Regions from separate parts of the Homo sapiens genome. Here all the other regions are linked to region 1. Evidence: fine-mapped expression QTL. A gene starts in region 1. Each other region holds a variant in brackets. All regions are shown on one strand. Distances are between the middles of the regions.

Region 1 (5,336 bases):
GGAAGGTGTCGCCATCGCTTCTAACAGTGAGCGGTGACTCCAGAAACCACGGGCATGGGCCTCAGCAGGGGCCTGGAGGCACCGATGGTGGAGAGGCCGGAAAGGGGTGGCCAACCGGCACGACAATCACCAAGCACGAGCGCCAACTCATCCCAGGCTCAGCCCCTAGCACACACGGTCATCACCCCACTTCACAGACGGGACGCTGAAGCCCGGGGAAGTGACGGCCACACAGCACCTGAAGCGCGGAGCTGGGAGGGGGACATCGGCGGGACCAACTCTGGGGCTCCCCCTTAACCACTGCCTGGCGCTCGCCCTCTCTACAAACCGATACCAACATAGGGTGGGGAGACTCCAGATGACCAGAGATAAAAAGCAAGCAGTTCACAGAGTCATAAACGTGTGGCATTTCTCACCAGGGCCGTCCTGCCCCCAGGGGACACTGAACGGTGTCTGGGTCACTTGTGGCTGTCACAACTGGCAGGTGCTCCTGGCATGGAGTGGGCAGAAGCCAGGGGCGTTGCTCAGCACCCCTAATTTCCTGACTCAAAATACCTCTGCCAAGGCACAGAAGCCCCAGTGAGGCATGAAACCATCTCGGTGAAGAACAAGCAGGCCCCTTTATGTGCTCACGTCTCTGTGGCCCAGCCAGGCACAACCTAAACTCACCAGCGCTAACATCAGGAGGGATGGCGTTGGAGGAGTGAGGCAACTCTGAATTTTAAACATTCAGAAGCAGTATATGGCCAGCTGGGGTCAGATTTCTGTGGATTTCAGGGATGGGCAGAGATGCCAGACCCTGACCTTCCAGCCCTCCCCGGCCCCCCACCCCCACCCCCCCACTCCCCCGCTCTCCCACCCCACCACCATGCTCAGTCTGGAGCTGGCAACTTTATCTGTCCCCGGTGCTCCCAGAGCCCCTGATAAGATGAATGGTCGCGGTGTGGTTTTCTTTTGGTCAGCGAGTCCTGGGCTACTTTGTCTCTGACCAGCTGGGGTCAGAGGGCTGACAGCGGAAGTTGGGGGGCCCAAGAAAGGAACCCGGGCTGGGGCCTGGTGCCCTGCCTGGGTTCCTCCACCATGTCTCTTGCTGGCCAGGCCAGGACACCGGCTGCCCGCAAAGAAAGGGGCGAGGCCACTGGCTCTGGGGAAGGAACCGGGTCACCTACCAAGCGGTTCCAGATGGCCGCCGGGAGGGAAGCCACGAGTGTCTTTCAAGGCGGGGGGTGGGGGGGGGACTTGATGACTTCCACACTCTCTCTCTCTCCAGACATCTCCCCAACTCCCAGGCAGCACGCATCGCCCGCCCGCCCGCTTGCCCGCCTGCCAACCAAGGAAGCTTCGGGAGGCCTGGGGGGAGAAGGAGGACGGATGCCCGTGTGGGTGTCTACAGAGACGCTGCTGCTGGCTGCCTGGGAGGAGCAGAGGATTTTGTGAATCCGGAAACTTCCGATTTGGGAGCTTGTGACCTCGACTGAGAAGGAACTGTTCCCTTCCTCTGGGCTCTGCACACCGTCCCCACAGAAGGGAAGGCCCAGCTGCCGCCACCTACCCGGCTGGAGGTCCAGGAAGCAGCTAAAGGGGGCATGAGACAGCCGTGCCCCCCGCCCAGCCCGCAGCCCCACCAGTGTGTCCTGGGGGAAGGCTCGGGGAGAGGAAAAGGGGGCGACAGGGCACCCTGTGTGCACAGCCGGGGCGGTGGAGGCATCTTGAGATGTAACCCTTTTCCTCCCCTCATTTTAGCAGGGAGGTAAACTGAGGCCCAGGAAGGTGAGGAAAGGTCGCGCACCCGGACTCAGGTCTGGGGACTTACAGAAAGGGAGGTGACATCAGGAGGTGGGCACGCACGGCCTCAGAGACCCCCGCCTCCACCCAAGCAGCCGCCACTCACACGACGGGCAGCCCCTGGGAGCGGGTCAGGCAGAACGGGGATCCCCAGCGGCGCCCACGCCGAGTCGCCCCCGGCCCGGGAGCGGTGGGAGGTAGCCCCTCGCAGGCCTCCCGCTTCCCGGCGCGGCTTCAGCCCCGTCCTCCCCGCGGCTCCAGGGGACTGCCCCGCCCCAGGCTCCTGGAACCGGCGGCGCCCCCGCAGCGACCGTGCAGCCCCCGCCCCGGCCCCGCAGCCCCGCGACTCTCGGCGCTCGGACGAGCCCAGCGGGCCGCAGCCCCGGGAGGCCGGGCCGTTACCTGCCGCCGCCCCGCTCTCTGCCGCCCACGCCGCCTCCGAGGGCACGGCCCCCGCCTCAGCGCTCTCCGCCTCGTCCGGTACCTCCAGCTCCATGGCCGCGCGCGGACGGCGGCGGGGGCGCCCGAGGGGGACCCGAGCTGCGACCGCCGCCGCCGAACAACAAGCGCCGCCGGCCAAGGGAGGGCGCGCCGGGCCGGCGCGGGGCGGACGGGGCGGGGCCTGCGTGCGTGCGACGCCGCGGACGGCGCGCGGCCAATCGGGGCTCGGGGGCGGGGCCTGCTTGCGACCCGCAGCCAGGAGCGCCTCGAGTGCCCCCTCGCGCCCAGGGGTGGGAGTACAGAGCCAGGCTCGCCATTCCATCGTATTAGGTCAGTAAGATTGACAGGCACGATACGTATCAATAACATTGCTGTGCACAACACATACCAATAACATGGATCTACACAACACATGACAATAATATGGATCTATACAGCACGTGCCAATAATATGGATGTACACAGCACATGCCAATAACATGGATCTAAACAGCACATGCCAATAACAGGGACCTGCACAGCGCATGACAATAACATGGATCTGGCCGGGCGCGGTGACTCACGCCTATATTCCCGGCACTTTGGGAGGCCGAAGAGGGCGGATCACCTGAGGTCAGGAGTTCAAGACCATCCTGACCAACATGGTGAAATCCTGTCTCTACTAAAAATACAAAAAATAGCTGGGCGTGGTGGCACATGCCTGTAATCGCGGCTACTCGGGAGGCTGAGGCAGGAGAATCGCTGGAACCCAGGAGGGAGAGGTTGCAGTGAGCTGAGATCGCACCATTGCCCTCCAGCCTGGGCCACAGAGTGAGACTCTGTCCCAAAAAAAACCACACATGGACCTACACAGCACATGCCAATAACATGGAGTTACCCAATGCATGCCAATAACATGGATATACACAATACATGCCAATAACACGGATATGCACAATACATGCCAATAACATGGATATACACAATACATGCCAATAACATGAATCTATACTATATCATTGACATGGATCTACATAAAACATACAAATAGCATTGCTATATGCAATACATGCCAATCACATTGCTATACACAATGAATACCAATAACATTGATCTACACAATACATGTAACTAACATTGATACACACACTACATGTCAATAACATTGATATACACACTACATGCCAATAACATGGATATACACACTACATGCCAATAACATTGATATACACACTACATGCCAATAACATTAATGTACACACTACATGTCAATAACATTGATATACACACTACATGTCAATAACATTGATATGCACAAAATATACCAATAACAGTGATATACACAGTACATGTAAATAATATTGATCTACACAGGGCCGGGCGCGGTGGCTCATGCCTGTAATCCCAAGACTTTGGGAGGCCGAGGCGGGCGGATCACGAGGTCAGGAGATTGAGACCATCCTGGTTAACATGGTGAAACCCCGTCTCTACTAAAAATACAAAAAATTAGCCAGGCGTGGTGGCGGGCGCCTGTAGTCCCAGCTACTTGGGAGGCTAAGGCAGGAGAATAGGGTGAACCTGGGAGGCAGAGCTTGCAGTGAGCTGAGATCGTGTCACTGCACTCCAGCCTGGGCAACAGAGCGAGACTCCATATCAAAAAAAAATATATATATATATAGATCTACACAATACATGTTATTAACATTGATCTACGCAATACATATCAATAACATTTGCAATTAACTACCTGTTTATTATCATATTGCAAATAATATTTATATTCCATCGTTTGTATTACGTAAGTATAGATATGTTATTGTTTTCTTTATATTATTTTATCAATAATAATACAGTTTGCTATTATAAGAAACATATAATTATAGAAATACATAATAAATTATATATATTTATGCAAATGTAAGTAGCAATATTTATATCCTTCTTTTTTTTTTTTGAGATGGAGTCTTGCTGTTGTTGCCCAGGCTGGAGTGCAGGGGGGCGATCTGAGCTCACTGCAACCTCTGCCTCCAGGGTTCAAGTGATTCTCCTGCCTCACCCTCCCAAGTAACTAGGACTACAGGTACGTGCCACCACGCCCGGCTAATTTTTGTATTTTTAGTAGAGATGAGGTTTCGCCATGTTGGCCAGGCTGGTCTTGAACGCCTGACCTCGTGATCTTCCCGCCTCAGCTTCCCAAAGTGCTGGGATTACAGGTGTGAGCCACTGCGCCCGGCCATATTTATGTTCTTTATATAAGCACATAATAAGGCTTATGTTGTTTATGTTAATTTAAGTAATAACGTTTATATTATTTACATAAATGTAAATCATAATGATTATATTACCTATGCACATAAATAATGTTTGGGGTGGGCACAGAGGCTCCCGCCTGTAATTCCAGCACTTTGGGAGGCCAAGGCAGGAGGATTACTTGAGCTCAGGAGTTCTAGACCAGCCTGGGTAACATAGTGAGCCCTCTCATCTCTACAAAAAAAATTTTTTTAATTAGCTAGGTGTAGTGAGACCCCTCATCTTTACAAAAAAAATTGTTTTTTAATTAGCCAGCTACTTAGTAGGCTAAGGTGGGAGGACTGCTTGAGCCCGGGAACTCAAGGCTGCAGTGAGCTATGATCGCACCACTGCACTCTGGCCTGGGCAACAGAGAAAGACCCCGTCTGTCCCCGCAAAAAAAAAAAACAAACAAAAAAAACAAAAAGACAAATTCTGTGTGGTTCCACTCCTAGGAGGTCCCTAGAGTTGTCACATTCACAGAGACAGAAAGTAGGATGGGGGGTGCCAGGGGCTTGGGGGGAGACGAGGAGTGAGTGTTTCACAGGGGCAGACTTCCAGTCTCAGAAGATGAGAACATTCTGGAGATGATGGCGGTGATGTTTGCACAGCCATGGGAATGTGCTTAAGGCCACGGAGCTGTGCTCTTAGACATGGTGAAAATGGGCCGGGCGCGGGGGCTCACACCTGCAATCCCAGCACTTTGGGAGGCCGAGGTGGGCGGATTACCTGAGGTCGGGAGTTCAAGACCAGCCTGACTAACATGGAGAAACCCCGTCTCTACTAAAAATACAAAATTAGCCAGGCGTGGTGGCGCGTGCCTGTAATCCCAGCTACTCGGG
Region 2 (5,336 bases), 68 kb before region 1:
TCAGGAGGCTGAGGCAGGAGAATGGTGTGAACCCAGGAGACGGAGCTTGCAGTGAGCTGAGATTGCGCCACTGCACTCCAGCCTGGGTGGAGAGCGAGACTCCATCTCTTAAAAAGAAAACAAACAAACAAACAAAAACAGAAAACAAAAAACACAGAACAAAGTCACTCCTCAGACTCCCAACCAGACCTCCGGAACCCACAGAAAGGCAAACAGGCGGATGCTTATTACCCGATTTATTAGAGAGATCTCTAAAAAGACGGGGTGTGGCGGGGGTAGGTGGGCGAGGAACCTGGGATGCAAACCAGTGTTTGGGGCCAGGAGTGGCTGTATGGTTTCAGAGGCGCCCACCACTCTGGGTTTGAGGGACACAGCACCCTCGTCTCGGCGCTTTGGATTGTCACGCACCAGACCACGGGGCGGAGGAATGGAGTGGCATCCCTGGGGGGAGTTAAGACACACGAGGTTTGCAGTTTCATTTTGTTTCAGAATCAGTTTGGCCATAAAAATGGGACTGGGTTGGGGACAGGCGGAGCGATTGAACCACCGGAGATGAGGAGGAGGTGGCAGGCGCCTCTCCTGGGGTGGGGACTGAGGGCTGTGGAGACAGTACCATGGTGAAGGACCCCATGGCAATGGGAGTATTGCACTGAGCCAGGTTTCGGGGGAACGGGGACGTGTCGGGATGGCGTAGGGGGACAGAGCCTGGCAGGAGACACATGGAAGTTTCCGCCTTGTCAGTCTCAGAGCAAACGCCTTTTAGTCTTTACAGTACAGGAATTTGGACACTGCCCACGTTCTCAGTGGACAGCAGCCATCAGAGGTGACCCAGGAGGGGAAGTGGGCATTGGTCACCAAGGTATTTACAGACTTCTATCATGGGGGACAGCGGGGTGGGTCCAGCAGCCTCCCTCGCGGGGGATCTGAGGGAGACCGAGTTCGCTAAATATTATAAATAGGTCTTGCCGTCCTCCTGCCCCCGCCCCTCGGCACAGTCAGTGGAGCACGTCAGCCTCGGTTTACAGTTCTCTGAAAAGGAACCAAAAAACACAACCAACACCAAGTATATCTCCAAAAGGGCCTTGGAGACAACACAAGAATGGAAATGAAATGGTATCCACAGAGGTTTGCACATTTCTCCTGCAAAGGCGCGTCGGCCGGGCACTGGTGTCCCGTGTCACTCAGCGGAGGGAGGCTGCCCTGGACGCGGTGCCGCCCGCCCGGGGCCACACCTGCTGCTCCGAGTCACCCCACAGGCTCTTGGCGTCTCTGGTGCCAGGGCTCTGGGCAGGGCGACTCGAGGACTCCCTGGGAGGACTGGTGTGGCCTCTGGGGGTTGGGCCTTTGAGATGACAATGCCCCTGTCCCTGCTGGCCATCCAGGTCCCAGACACCCCTTCTGACCTCTGCCCCTGCCTCCCCGGGGGGTGCCTGCTGGGTGTCCTTCGGAGGGACAGGGCGGGGGCTGATGGGTGGATGCCCGGTGCCAGCAGATGAGCACCAGGCTGTGAACTGAGGCCAAGGTCGCTTCCCAGGGCTGGACAGACCCTCTGAGCACGCAGGGAGGACCCCACGTGGGCTTGTCCTGATGGATGCTGGGAGCCACGCGGCTGGCCGGTTCCCGAGGAGGGTCGGCCCCTCTCCTGGGCAGAGTGGAGGGGCTGCTCTCGTGGAGTGTGTGTCCTCGCTGGGGACCTCGGGGATGGGTCCGGCTTCTCCACAGCAGGGGCCTTCCGGGCGCAGCGTGTGGGCTGTGCAGGAGGCCGACGGGACGTGAACAGCGGGTGGCGTGGCGTCATACGGAGGTTGTAACAGACAAAACACAGAGCCCTGCCTGGGAGGTTCTCCGGCCGTCTCAGACCCCACACCAGGCTCTGCCAGGTCTGGAGAGGAATTCTTCCCAAAGGTGCAGCTTCCACTCCAGCTCCTCACATCCTGGGCACATCTTGGAAGTGGGGGATTCCCACAGCCATCACCAATAAGCCCCTCTCAGGGGTCCTGGGGAAGGGCAGGGTGGGTGACTCTGCCGAGCTCTGGCCTCCAACCAGCACCCTCTGAGCGCAGCGGGCCCAGGAAGCTGCCCCAGGGCAGTCTGGGCTGAGTCCCACCACTGGGAGCGCTGCCCTCTTGGAGGGTGATGAGTCGGAAACAAAGTCTTCTCTCCCCTCCTCGGAGACATCACATCACTTAAACAAGAAAGAGGCGGCGGACATCCACACCAGTCCTGAAGGAGACTCCTGTGGAGCCGGGCCTGGCCCCCTAGGCCATGTCTCCACGTGGAGGGGGCGGGGAGCCTGACCTTCCGCCCTGAGCTGGTCTCCTGTGGCCCAAGGCCCGGCCTCCCGCTCTGTCCTGCCATGGAGAAAACGTCTCCGTTGCCTGGGCCCTCCATGCCAGTTGCTGAGTGGCCTACGTTGGAAGAGAAGGACAAGTCCCCAGCCCTGAGCTCCGCCAGCGTGGGTGGCAGCCTGGGGAAGAGGAGGCCTGGCCCTCCAGCTGTGGTGGGTCTGGATTGGAGGCGCCAGAGGTTTTTGCTCGAGGGGCACCTGGGAGGTGGGCGTCAGGGCCCCACTGCGGCGGGAACATAGCTGCTGAGTGGCCGCAGTGCTTGGCAGGGCGAGGGCTGTCCCCACAGTCGATGTTCAGGCCAGATGTCCTGCACTGAGGCCCCCAAACCCAAGCTGAGGGCAGGAGGGTCCGCTTCCCACGTGGATGGAGGCAGAGTTGCTCGGGACCCCAGCCGTCCCCTCTGCAGGCCGATGGGGCCCCCGGGGCTCAGGTCCCCAGAGGCCACCGCGAACAGCCTGGCTTCTTCCTCAGGACACAGGCAGGCACAGCAGAGAACCAAAGAGTGCAGTGGGCAGGGGCTCTTCTCCCTCTGGTTGGTTTGTTTGTGTCTTTTTTGTTCTTTTCCTAAAACGGCACACACGTGCTTCCGTCTCTGTGCCAAATAAGGACTCAAATGCGATTGGCCGCTCGGGAGGGTGGGTCTCACAGGGGCAGGCTGCCGACCGGGGTGCCGGGGCCCTGGGAGGCTTGTCGGGGAGGGGCCCGGCCGTCGGCATCCGTGCAGGGGGAGGACGAGGTCCGGTGGGGCGGCGAGGCGGGCATCTCCCGAGCTCTGGGCCTCAGCGGGGTGGGCAGCGCCTTCGGGGG[C/A]AGCCGGAGCAGAAGTGGAGCTCGGCTCTGGGTCGGGGGCTGCATAGAAATTACTGCAAGAGCAAGAGGACAGGTGAAGGTGGGCGGGGCGAGGGCCCACCCCAGGCCCCCTGCCAGGGACTGGCTTCCTTGGGCCAACACAGGCCCTGAGACACTTAGCCCACGGCCACCTCAGAGCCAGAGAGCCCAGGGTGGAGCTCTGGGCCACCTGTGCCCTCCCGCCCCGGGCCTCAGTCCCTGCCTATCCCAGTAGCTGGGGACCACGCTCAGTAGAACCTTGGAGCCCACGGGACCGGCGGGTGCACCTGGGCTGCACTTACTGTGTCGCTCTCGCCGTCGGAGGCCGGGGGGGCCTGGGCGCTATAGTGGAGCGGGGAGTACACCCAGCTCCTCTCATCGGTGGGCTGGCAGGTGGGCGCGCGTGCAGGAGGGCGCGGAAGAGCAGGGTGCGAGGAGGTGCAAGAGAGGCAGAGGGAGGAAGGAAGAGACAGGAGAACATAAAAGAGGCGAATCCCCCATGGAAGACGAGGGGTGGCTCAGCCCAGCTGCCCTCTCTGACCCGGTGGACTTGCTCCCAACCTGGACGGGCCTGGGGCCTCAGCTCAGCTTGGCGGGGCGGGGCACGGCGGGCGGCAGAAAGCAGTTAGTTCAGTCGAGGCAGGGCCTGAGATAGCAGGTGACAGAGCCGGCGGAAGCGGGTGGGGGTCGCGACCTGGAGCACCGAGTGTTCCTCCTCCTCCTCCTCCTCCACAGCCCGGCCCCACCACAGCCCCCAATCCTGCCTGTGCCACGGGCACCAGCGCACAGGCTCCTGGAAGCTCTCTATGGGGGTCCTGGGAGGTCGGGGTGCCGGACCTACTTCCCAACCCAGAAGCCTTTTGGGACCTGAATATATGGCTGCCTGCGGGCAGGGCCAGTCCCCTCTGCCAGCACAGACGTGCTAGGAGAGACTGAGGCTCGGACCACCCACCCTGCAAGAGCCAGGAGACGCCTTCCTGAGCAGCAGGGCAGAGTGAGGGCCAAGTTCAGGGCTAGGCACAGGCAGGGCCGTGTGCAGGGACACGGACAGCTCTTCCCAGCTGTGCCTGCGTGAGGGGTCCCAGGTCTGGGTGGGATCTGGGGAGGGAGGGAGGGTGCGTTCCTCCAACACCTCCGTCCCGCCTCCTGAGGAGCCCCCACCCCCTCAAGCTCCCCCTGCTTCTCCTGCCCCTAGGCTGCTCTGCTTTCTCAGGGCTCCAGCCTGGCCGCCCTGTCTTCCTTGTTGTGTCCTCCTCTCTCTCGGGCCTCTGTCACCAACCCAGCCTTCAACGCCCCTCCCGGCACAGATGACCTGCGAATTTCCACCAGGCCTGGCCTCGGCCTGAAGTGCCAGGCCTGAATACACACCTGCCTGGCCACGTCCACCTGGCGGCCCTCGGCCCCTAAACTCGCCACAGTCACAACCCAGTCCATCACCCCAAGACCCACTGCTCGTCCTTCCAGTCAGGATGACGCTGCCCACCTGCTGCCCAGGCCAACCCATGCCTCTGCCAGCTCCCAGTTGCCCAGCCTGGGCCAGCAGGGGCCTCCCTTGTGCTCCAGGTGAGCCCAGACCTCACCTGCAGGAGCACTGCCTCTCCCTGCCTCGGGCTCTGCCTCCATGCTCCCTCTAAAGGGCCCACCTCTGTGCTCACTCCACCCTGCCCGATCCTACAGCTTCCACAAGACCCCTGTTCCCGGGCCCTGGGCACCGAGGGCAGCGCACTCCTGCCCTGCGAGGCCGCATCGCGGAGGACTGACTCCTGCACTGAGGGGCCAGGACCCCAGCGCAGGCCTTGCCTGTTCCTCCAGGGTAGCAAATGCAGCCTGGAATCCCTGACGTGGGAATGGCAGGTCAGGTCCACCCAACGTCCCTTGAGAGCCCGGCATGGGGAGCCTATGTGGGTGCTCAGTACTGATTTGGTGGCTGCACTGATGGATCCCATGGGGACTTGAAAATGTGGGGCCAAAACAGGGTCCCCACCTGAGCCCTGAAAGAACTGGCCCGCAGGGAGGAGGGTGGCAGCAGCCACCTCAGAGCCGCTCTCTGGGAGGGGCATCCCGGGCACACACAGCACGTGGGCAGGGATGACAGTATCCTTCTGCTACAGCATTAGAAACGGGGATACAGGCCAGGTGCAGGAGCTCACGCCTGTCATCCCA
Region 3 (5,336 bases), 82 kb before region 1:
GTCAGCGTCTATAGAAAGCCGGGTCTGGACATGCTGCTGCATGTCTGGATGCCTCCCGAATGCCCACAAGGGGGCCCGGGGGTTTAGGGGGTCCCAGCAGCTGCTAGAGGCTGGGGGTGCAGGCCAAGGGCCCTGGGGCTGCGTGGGGGAAAGGCCAGGCCCTACACAGGGTGGGAGGCTAATGAAGCTGAGCTGGGATGACACCCGTTTTCTACTGCACAACCTCCTGTAGGGTTAGAACTTCCTAGAAAAAGCTAGGTGCACCAAAATCTCACAAGTCACCACTAAAGAACTTATTCATGTAAACGGCCGGGCACGATGGCTCACGCCTGTAATCCCAGCACTTTTGGAGGCTGAGGTGGGTGGATCACGAGGTCAGGAGATCAAGACCATCTTGGCCAACATCGTGAAACCCTGTCTCTACTAAAATACAAAAAATTAGCCAGGTGTGGTGGTAGGTGCCTGTAATCCCAGCTACTTGGGAGGCTGAGGCAGGGGAATTGCTTGAACCCAGGAGGCAGAGGTTGCAGTGACCTGAGAACACACCACTGCACTCCAGCCTGGCAAGAGAGCAAGACACCGTCTCAAAAAACAAAAAAACTTATTCATGTAACCAAACACCACCTGTTCCCCAATAACCTACAGAAATAATAAAAAAACTTTAATTTTGTAAAAATTAAAAAGAAAAAGCATGCAGTCACTCATGCCTTTAATCCTAGCCCTTCTGGAGGTGAGGCAGGAGGATTGCTTGAGGCCAGGAGTTCAAGACTAGCCTGGGCAACACAGTGAGACCCCATCTCTACAAAAAATTTTCAGAAGTGGCTGGGCACAGTGGCTCACTTCTGTAATCCCAGCACTTTGGGAGGCTGAGGTGGGAGGATCATGAGGTCAAGAGATTGAGACCATCCTGGCCAACATGGTGAAACCCTGTCTCCTTAAAAATACAAAAATTAGCTGGGCGTGATGGCGCGCGTCTGTAATCCCAGCTACTTGGGCAGCTGAGGCAGGAGAATCGCTTGAATCTGGGAGGCAGAGGTCACAGTGAGCAGAGATCGCACCACTGCACTCCAGCCTGGTGACAGAGTGAGACTCCTTCTCAAAAAATAAAATAGCTGGGTGTGATGGTGAGCGCCTGTAGTCCCAGCTTCTAGGGAGGCTGAGGTGGGAGGATCACCTGAACCCAGGAAGTCGAGGCTACAGTGAGCCTTGATCGCGCCACTCAACTCTCGCCTGGGCGACAGAGCGAGACCTTGTCTCTGAAAAATGAAAAGTAAAAGGAAAACCCCAATTAATTTAAGAAGATCCAGGACAGGGGCTCTGTGGGTCTCCAGGGGGACAGCAAAGTCAAGACCCCTCGGTTCCCTACTCCTGGAAACCATGTTGAAAGGAGAATCAGAAACAAACTCCCTCGGAAGACACCAAAGCCACCTGGGGTCCCCAACTGTAACGCGTGAGGGGAAAGGAGGGCTGAGCGACGTGGTGGAGGCAGAAGGCCATGGAAGGGATGGGAGAGGCCGGGGCCTAGGGCAGTGGGGCACGCTGGAAACGCCTCCCAGGCTTATAGGAGAGGCCGGGCCCAGGGCAACGCTGGAAACGCCTCCCAGTCTTACAGGAGAGGGCGGGGCCTAGGGCAACGCTGGAAACGCCTCCCAGGCTTCCTGCAGCCGGTGGGTAGGGTCTGCGGCTTCTGAAGGAAAATGTACTGCACCCAGAAGTCTTTGCCCAGCCCCGCTGCCACCAGCAGGAGCACACCAAGACCCTTAACGGACACACCTCTGATGCTGGAGAACTGCCCTGCCTCTCTGAGGTTACGGGAGAATGTGCCCCACGGAGGAGACCACTGGAGGGACAGGATGGCTGAGTGAACTCCACCTCCGGGGAACACAAAGCTCCACTGAAAAAGAGGAAAGCCACAGGCTCTTTCCTAGGAAGGACCTGCCACAGACCACGCTGAGGGCTGCAAATGACACTGACCCAGCCTCCTGGGATCCTCGGCCACCATGATGGCACCCAAGGCCTGAGAGGGAGGGCAGGGGAAGGACCGGGTCTATCGACAGGGATGCGTGGCCCATGAGAGCCAGGCACTGTTACAGCAGCCGCTGGGGCGTGGATTTTGGCGGGGAGGGGGCAGGGCTGCTGTGGTTGGCTTTTAGACCGGGGGGGGGGGGGGTCTCATCTAGGGCAATTCTGCCCCCAGGGGACTCTGGGCAACGTCTGGGGACATCTGCGGTTGTCAGGACTAGGGGTGCTCCTGACCCTGGGTGGAGGCCAGGGACGTTGCTCAGCACCCAGCAGTGTCCAGGACGGCCCCACCCTAGGGAACGGCCCAGCCCGCATGTCCGCAGTGCTCAGGGTAGACGCTTTAGAGCATCCCCGGTGACCATGTGTGTGCAACCACACGGAGGGGGGGGAAACGTGATTTTAAAAGCCCATCAGGTTGGAGGGGCACGAACTGACGCACGGGACAGGTAGCGCCCTGAAGCTGGGCTGCACGGCCTTCAGGCCAGGTGGAGCGAGACTTGCTGTCAAACAGGCAGAGCCACTGAGAGCACTGAAACCTGAGCGGAAAGCCCCGTGGCTCCCATAAGGCCGGCAC[C/T]GCCGAGTCAGCGTTAACGGGACGCTGGGTCTGGACGCTGCTGGCCCTGCACCCCAGACAGAGGCCCGCCCCACTCATCCCTCCCAGGGCCTACTGCCCGCTGCTGCCCCCTGGTGGCTCGGCCCAGAAGGGGAGGCCCCAGTTGGGGAAACCGAGGCCTGCAGAGAGCACCAGGCCCCACAGCAAGTCTGAGGCTTCTGGGTGAACACTGTAGCCCCCGCAGCTCCCCTGGAGCCCAGGCCCATGCCCGCCGTTACCTGGCCCCTTGCCCGAGGCCTCCAGCTTGCGGAGCTTGGAGATCTCGTCCTCGGTGATGGTGGTCATGTCCCGCCAGAAGTCGGCGTTCTTGCCCTGCTCCAGCTCCATGTAGACCTGGGGGCAGGGGGCAGGGGTCAGGACACGGGTGTGGCTGGGGTGGGGGTGAGGGTGCAGGTCAGAGGAGCATCGGGTGGGGCTGGGTACCTGGATATCCTCCAGCAGGTCCTCCATGTCGGCCACGGTGAGGCCGTTGAGGAACGTGTAGGGCTCATGCATCTCCACGGCCAGATCGTCATCCTCAGCGCTGATGTACTTGGCCAGCAGGTCGATGGGCTTGGCCCGCCCGTCCCGGATGCGGATCTTGGAACTGTGGGGAGCAGGGGAAGGTGGCATCAGAGCCTGGGCTGTGCCCTCCATGCTAAAGACCCTGCCCTTGGGGTGACCACACCAGTGGGAGCCGAGGAGGGGCCTGACCCGTTGGGGGTGGTCAGGGAAGGCTTCCTGGAGGAGGAGGAGGAGGAGGCATAAGGTAGAGTGAGCCGGGTCAGCCAAAGGGCGCAGGCCAGCAGTGCAGACAAAGTGCAAGCAGCGTGGACCCGGAGGTGGGCCAGGTGGGAGGGGCTTCCTGGAGGGCCTCTGGGATGTGCCCAGGATGGCGGCTTCTATGTGGGCTGTGATGGGGAAGAGTGGAGGAGCTGAAGCAGAGGCAGGCTGGGGGACCAGAGTAGTCACTGCCTTGCAACCACCTCCTCCCCCAGGCAGACCACTCGGGGCAGAGAGCCGGGTTTCTGTTCTGGGCCTGCAGGGGGGTACGCGTTGCAGGCGGGCCCTGGTCCAACCCAAGGGAACCCGTCACCAGGGAGGCCCGAGCTGGGAGGAGCCTGATGTCACCCGCCACGGGGCCCAAGGCAAGCAGGGACACCCCGGAGCCTCAGCTTGTCTGTAAACCAGGCGGATGGGGGTGCCACCCTCCTGGGTGGAGTGTGGGAGGGACAACTGCAGTCAGTGCAGGACTGGCGTCCAGCATGCGTGGGGTGCCGTTCACCTGGGCCCGTCTCCTCTGCACCCTGCCCAGCAGGGGAGGGCAGGAGACAGAAGCCTTGCCGCCCGGGAAGGGGTCAGGAAGGGAAGGTCCCAGGAAGTGCCGTGTGGGACCCTGAAGGGTGGGAGAGCAGTGGCTTCCAGAGTGACAGCCAGTGCCCGGCCCTGGCTCCAAGTCTGGGTCGGAGGGAGGGGGAGGCCCCAGCGCACCGCAGCTTGGCCTGCTGGAGGTGGAAGTTGTCCTCCTGCTCCTCCCATGTCTTGAAGTGCTCTGCCTCCTTCTCGCGCTGCAGCATCTCCAGCTCCTGCTCGCGCATGGCCTTCTCCCGCTCCCGCTCCAGCCGCAGCTGCTTCACCTGCAGGCACAGGAGGCTGAGGGCAGCGGGGACCGTGCGGTCTGCAGGGCTGCGGGGGGAGGGGCTGTGATGATGGGGGCCCAGCCTTCACCCAGCTGCCCTGGGCACAGGGATTGGTCCGGAGATGCCTGGGCTGGTGGACAGACCTTGGGAAGGGAGAGGGCCCTCCTGCCCGAGACTCAGCAGCTCAGATCAGCTGGGGCCCTCTCGGCCACCCTGAAGGGAGCATGTGGGAGTGAAGGCCCGAGGCCAGCAGAGCCGAGAGGTGGAGGGAAACAGTTTCCTGGGGCCATGGTCTGAGCCCCTGGATCCAGCCTTACCTGAAGCCAGCCCCCAGGACTTCCCACTTAAGCCCCTCAAGTCCTGCCAAAGGGGGCGGGCCTCCAGGCCCTGGAAAGGGAGGGCCCTGCCCAGTGGGCTGGCAGGGTGCCTACCTTCTGCAGCTCCAGCCGGTTGTCCTCCTGGATCCTCTTGTTCCGCTCCTTCAGCTCCTTCTCCTCCAGGTGGCTGATCCCCTTCTTCTCCAGGGCCTGGAAGCACCAGGCACACCTGCCCTGAGCACAGACCCGCCCCCTCGCCCCCCTCCTCAGCTCCTTCGTCCAAGAGATTGACCAGGGCCCTTGTTTTGCAGAGAGAGGTGACCTGCCAGCACTGCACGTCTTCCACCCCCTCCTTAACACTCCTGAAACCCAGTGCATCCAATTCAGTGCAGACATGGAGCCCCCACTGGGAGTGAGATGTATGCAAAGGGTAAGAAGGGGCTACCCCAACTCTCAACAGGAGGGCCTCACTCGGGGCCGCCCCAACTCCCAACAGGAGGGCCTTGCTCGGGGCCACCCCAGCCCCCAACAGAAGAGCCTTGCTCGGGGCCTGCTGACTCGCTTTACCCGGGAGTCTGAGTGCTTCGGACGTGAAGGCCACGCCCTCAGCAAGTCAGGGTCCCCCACTGCACGTGGGACAGGGCAGGAACAGTGAGTGGGGGCAGCAGCAGCTCTGAAAGCAAACCTGTGGGGTCATGGGGCCCCGCCCACACAGCGGGGCACAGGGGTGGCCACTGATGGGCTTGTCCCAGCCTGGAGACCCTC
Region 4 (5,336 bases), 50 kb before region 1:
ATTCTAGAGCCCCAGCTGAGCACGGTGGCTCACACCTGTAATCCCAGCACTTTGGGAGGCCAAGGCAGGCAGATCACCTGAGATCAGGAGTTCAAGACCAGCCTGGCCAACATGGTGAAACCCCATCTCTACTAAAAATACAAAAATTAGCCGGGCGTGCTGGCGCGTGCCAGTAATCCCAGCTACTGGGGAGGCTGGGGCAGGAGAATAGGGTCGACTCAGAAGGCAGAGGTTGCAGTGAGCCAAGATCGCACCAATGCTCTTCGGCCTGAGTGACAGAGCGAGACTTTGTCTTAAAACAAACAAATGAAAAACCAAAAAACAAATATTCGAGCCCCAAAGTGAGGCCTCAAACCCACTCCTTGGATTTTCTTTTTTCTTTTTTTTTGGGACAGGGTCTTGCTCTGTCACCCAGCCTGGGGTGCAGTACGGCCATCATAGCTCACTGCTGCAGCCCCAGACTCCTGGGCCCAAGGAATCCTCCTGCCTCGGCCTCCCAAGTAGCTGGGACTGCAGGAGCACCACCACGCTCAGCTAATTTTTTGATATTTTGTAGAGATGGGGTCTTGCTATGTTGCCCAGGCTGGTCTCAAACTCCTGGGCTCAAGCAATCCTCCCGCCTCGGCCTCCCACAGTGCTAGATTACAGGTGTGGACCACTACGCCCAACTCACTCTAGATTTTCAAGGCGACCAAACACCTTCCCTTTAGGGCTCAAGAAGGGGCAGCCAAGCAAGAGCTTTCCAGGTTGAGGAAGCCCCGAGAGCTGCTGGTGCGGCTGTTTCCACGGGCAAGCGCCTCTGTGCATGGGTGTCCTGGGGGCGCCCATCCACCTGTGGGACTGCAGACCCAGGCGCCCACCTGTGGGGCTGCAGACCCGGGCGCCCACCTGTGGGGCTGCAGACCCGGGCGCCCACCTGTGGGACTGCAGACCCGGGGCGTCCACCTGTAGGACTGCAGACCCGGGCACCCACCTGTAGGACTGCAGGATGTCGATGATGCCAATGTGCAGCAGCAGCCGCTCCCCGCGGCCGTTCACAGCGGGGATCCCGCCCATCCTGGGGAGAGAGGCCGAGGGTACCATCAGCATCCCGCAGAGCTGGGACTCGGGGCAGGCGGGGCTGGGGACTCCAGGGCTAGGGAGTCCATCTGCTCCTGTGGGTGGCAACTTGGCCAAGCTCTCGGAGTGGGGCCTGGCACCCGGGAACCTCTGTCCTGACATCCCTCCATCACCCCCAGCCTCAAACCCAGGCCCAGGCACTGCTGAGGAGTCCCAGCTAGGAGGCCTGGGCACATACCCCCTACACACACGTGTGCCTGGACACACACATGCACACACACGCACACTGCATGCCCAGGTAGGGCCACGGGGTCTCAGGTACAGACTGGGGAGTTAATTGTCACCCGGCACCATGCCCACACGTCCCCTGCCCAGCGCGGGAGTTAACTGTCACCCGGCACCATGCCCACACGTCCCCTGCCCAGCGCGGGAGTTAACTGTCACCCGGCACCATGCCCACACGTCCCCTGCCCAGCGCGGGAGTTAACTGTCACCCGGCACCATGCCCACACGTCCCCTGCCCAGCGCGGGAGTTAACTGTCACCCGGCACCATGCCCACACGTCCCCTGCCCAGCGCGGGAGTTAACTGTCACCCGGCACCGTGCCCACACGTCCCCTGCCCAGCGCGGGAGTTAACTGTCACCCGGCACCGTGCCCACACGTCCCCTGCCCAGCGCGGGAGTTAACTGTCACCCGGCACCGTGCCCACACGTCCCCTGCCCAGCGCGGGAGTTAACTGTCACCCGGCACCGTGCCCACACGTCCCCTGCCCAGCGCGGGAGTTAACTGTCACCCGGCACCATGCCCACACGTCCCCTGCCCAGCGCGGGAGTTAACTGTCACCCGGCACCGTGCCCACACGTCCCCTGCCCAGCGCGGGAGTTAACTGTCACCCGGCACCGTGCCCACACGTCCCCTGCCCAGCGCGGGAGTTAACTGTCACCCGGCACCGTGCCCACACGTCCCCTGCCCAGCGCGGGAGTTAACTGTCACCCGGCACCGTGCCCACACGTCCCCTGCCCAGCGCGGGAGTTAACTGTCACCCGGCACCGTGCCCACACGTCCCCTGCCCAGCGCGGGAGTTAACTGTCACCCGGCACCGTGCCCACACGTCCCCTGCCCAGCGCGGGAGTTAACTGTCACCCGGCACCGTGCCCACACGTCCCCTGCCCAGCGCGGTTAGTGAGGCCACACGTGCAGCAGTCATCCTGAAGCCACTGGGACCCAGACCCGCTGGGCTGGCGCCCTGCACGCTCTGCTCACGCCACAGGCTGGTACGCTCACCTGCTCCCCCGCCAGGCCAGCGAAGACCCTACAAACGCCAGGATGGTCTGAGGGGGAGCTGTGCCTGGCCTTGGCTCCCGCACCCCCCCGCAGCTACACCCTGGTTGGGGCCCCGGCTCCTCCTCTGCCATCCATGGGAAATACCACCACCGCTGCAAACCAAAGCCCAGCTGGTGGCCTAGTGCCAGCCAGTGCCAGCCAGCACCGTCCCTGGGGCCAGGCCAGGTGGAACTTGGCTCCACACCTTCGTGGCTGCACTGGGGAAGGCTGCCCCCCAACCTAGGAGCCTATTTCCTCAGCTGGAAACAGGGGAAGCCCACCTCCCTCCTCCAAGGCCGCTGTGAAGACTGAACAGGTACCAAAGTGAAGGCTCGGGCCTGCCCCCACTGTCAGGGTGCTGCTGTGACCAGGGCACAATCTCAGCACTGCTATACGACACCTGTCTATCCCGCATCCGGGGCCATGTCTGGGGACATCTGTGGTTGTCACAACTGGGGGGTGCTCCTGGCCCGGAGTGGGTGGAGGCCCGGGACGCTGCTCAGCACCCTGCAGTGCCCAGGACAGCCCCACCCCAGAGAATGACCCAGCCCTCACATCCAGTGTCCCAGGAGAGCTCTGTGAGTATCTCCCCAGCCAAACCCTGAGCCCTGTGAGGGCAGGGCCTGCCTGGTCCCTCTGCCCCTGGTGTCCAGCAGACATGACTGCAGGCCACTGAGATGTGGCCTCCTCTCTCCACCACCGTTCCTATCTTCTGTGGCAGCCACTTTTTTTTTCTTTTTGGACAGAGTTTAGCTCTTGTTGCCCAGGCTGGAGTGCAATAGCTCAATCTCAGCTCACTGCAACCTCCACCTCCTGGGTTCAAGCGATTCTCCTGCCTCAGCCTCCCAAGTAGCT[G/A]GGATTACAGGCGTGCACCACCACGCCCAGCTAATATTTTGTATTAAGCAGAGATGGGGTTTCACCATGTTGGCCAGGCTGGTCTGGAACTCCTGACCTCAGATGATCCACCTGCCTCAGCCTCCCAAAGTGCTGGGATTACAGGTGTGAGCCACCGCGCCCAGCGTTTTTTTTTTTTTTTTTAAGACAGGGTCTCACTCTGTTGCCCAAGCTGGAGTGCAGTGGTGTGATCTTGGCTCACTGCAACCTCCGCCTGCCACGCTCACGCCTGCCACGCCTTCAGCCTCCCAAGTAGTTGGGACTACAGGTGCACGTGCCACCACGTCCAGCTACATTTTATATTTTTTGTAGAGATGGGGTCTTGCCATGTTGCCCAGGCTGGTACTGAACTCCGGGGCTGAGGCAATCCTCCCACCTTGGTCTCCCAAGGTGCTGGGAGTACAGGCATGAGACACTGCGCCCAGCCAGCAGCTGCTTTGATCTGTGTGGAATCGGATTTTGCAGTCCCTCTGCTTCGTGGGCTGTGTCCTGCTGTGAGCCCTGCCTCGCCCGATCCCTCTGGCCTCCCATGCGCCTTCCACACCTTTGTGGCCCCTCTCTGCACGGGTGGCGTGTAGACCCCTCTGAGTGCCACCGGGAAACGCTATCTCTCTCTCATTCCTGTGGATGGCCAGTGGCCTCGGCCCAGTCACGGGTGAATGGGAAACGCCCCCACCATTGCAAGCCAAGGCCCGGAACCCTGCACTCAGCCTGCGGCCCGCACTACGGCCTGGCTTCGCTCTGAGGCGCTGGCACAAGGCTCCCAGACTCTGTCTGTCACCCACGCATGCCCTCGCCAGCCCTCCCTGCCTGTTTTCACACTTGGGACGGGGATGGGGAACTGGAGCCTGTGGGGAAGGGAAGCGGGACGGGTCCGGCGGCCCCCCGCCCACCTACGTGTCATCCGATTCGATGGCCTCCCCGCGCGCGGCGCCACCCTGGATGGACTCCATGGCCGTGGAGTAGAGCGCCTTCTGGCCCACAGGCCGCTTCTCATCTGAGGTGCTCTGGGCGCCCTGCGCCTGCCGCTCGCGCTCGTGCTGGTCGATGTTGTGCACGCCCAGCAGCAGGCTGTAGTCCATGATCTTGAAACTTTCCAGGACCTGGCGGGATCGGGCAGGAACACGCCACGCCGTCAGCCGTCTCTATCCCCCACAACGGCTCCCGGACCCTATGGGGTTCCCAGCACGGATGGCCCCGTGGGCTCGGGTGTGAGAGATGGAGTCCCACGGCCAGGCAGGAGTGGGGGTTCTAGTGTTATCCTGAGGAACAGAGGGGCTGCGGTCACACAGCGGCATCAGAGCAGGCCAGAGAATGGGGGCTTCCAGCCTCACAGCAGGCTGCCCCGGGCACTGAGACAGGGACTTCCCTTCCTGGCTTTACTCCTTCCTGAGAGACAGGGAGCCGGGCCTATGCTCTGACCAGCCCAGGCCCATGGGCAAGGACGTGCCCGGCCTGACAGGTGACACCCAGGTGGGTGGATGCCCAGGGTAGCCTCAAGGCCCCTGAGTGGTCTGGGCGGTTTTCTGGGGGTATGGGTCAAGTTCTCAAAGGGGTCGGGGAGCTGGGGATGGTCAGCAGCGGGGCCTGGGTGGAGTTGGGGAGCTGGGAGGTCCCAGGCTCTGCTCCTGACAGGCTGGGGCCTCCCCTCCTTGGCTCCATGCCTCGAAGCTGCCGGGGTGGGACGGGGACGACGGAGCTAACCCAGGCAGAGGAAGAGCCGTGCATATCATTCTTTCGCTAACACGGAGCCAACGCAGGCTCCACGGGGACAGGAGCCAGACCCTCACTGGACGCACATGGGCCCTCACTGTGGCCTGCAGAGCAAGCAGTCATCCCATTTGATGGGTGAGGAAACTGAGGCACAGCAAGCTCTCATGGCTGGCTGGGAGCTCTGGGCTTGTGACCACAGCATCTGAAGGCTGGGCTCTTCTCTGGGGGGTGGGGGGACTCTACCACTGTCATCGTGTAACCTCCAGAGGAACCACTTCTCAGCAGTGCAGACACTCCCGACCCCCAAGGGCTGGGTCTGGGGACATGTTATAAGTGTTTTGTTTTC

What was found. PIP is the estimated chance that this variant, and not a neighbour inherited with it, causes the effect.
Region 2: its variant is fine-mapped to the expression of PIP5K1C in whole blood (TOPMed, PIP above 0.99).
Region 3: its variant is fine-mapped to the expression of PIP5K1C in whole blood (INTERVAL, PIP above 0.99).
Region 4: its variant is fine-mapped to the expression of PIP5K1C in skeletal muscle (GTEx, PIP above 0.99).

Annotation. Positions count from the first base shown.
Region 1 is chr19:3,698,110-3,703,445 of GRCh38, forward strand. PIP5K1C (phosphatidylinositol-4-phosphate 5-kinase type 1 gamma) reads right to left here and starts at 2,359. Exons shown (of 18, transcript NM_012398.3): 1 at 2,188-2,359. The coding sequence starts at 2,281. RefSeq lists an enhancer at 1,416-2,199 and silencers at 1,898-2,037, 2,118-2,607.
Region 2 is chr19:3,629,962-3,635,297 of GRCh38, forward strand. PIP5K1C (phosphatidylinositol-4-phosphate 5-kinase type 1 gamma) reads right to left here. Exons shown (of 18, transcript NM_012398.3): 17 at 3,476-3,559; 18 at 222-3,208. The coding sequence ends at 3,206. Among named protein-coding and RNA genes, the nearest start is that of CACTIN, 5.8 kb to the left of the region's middle. The variant C/A (reference allele first, on the strand shown) is at 3,156.
Region 3 is chr19:3,616,022-3,621,357 of GRCh38, forward strand. CACTIN (cactin, spliceosome C complex subunit) reads right to left here. Exons shown (of 10, transcript NM_001080543.2): 3 at 4,686-4,781; 4 at 4,106-4,251; 5 at 3,059-3,221; 6 at 2,854-2,968. Among named protein-coding and RNA genes, the nearest start is that of CACTIN, 8.1 kb to the right of the region's middle. RefSeq lists an enhancer at 2,024-2,896. The variant C/T (reference allele first, on the strand shown) is at 2,597.
Region 4 is chr19:3,647,652-3,652,987 of GRCh38, forward strand. PIP5K1C (phosphatidylinositol-4-phosphate 5-kinase type 1 gamma) reads right to left here. Exons shown (of 18, transcript NM_012398.3): 8 at 4,175-4,380; 9 at 974-1,057. Among named protein-coding and RNA genes, the nearest start is that of CACTIN, 24 kb to the left of the region's middle. The variant G/A (reference allele first, on the strand shown) is at 3,239.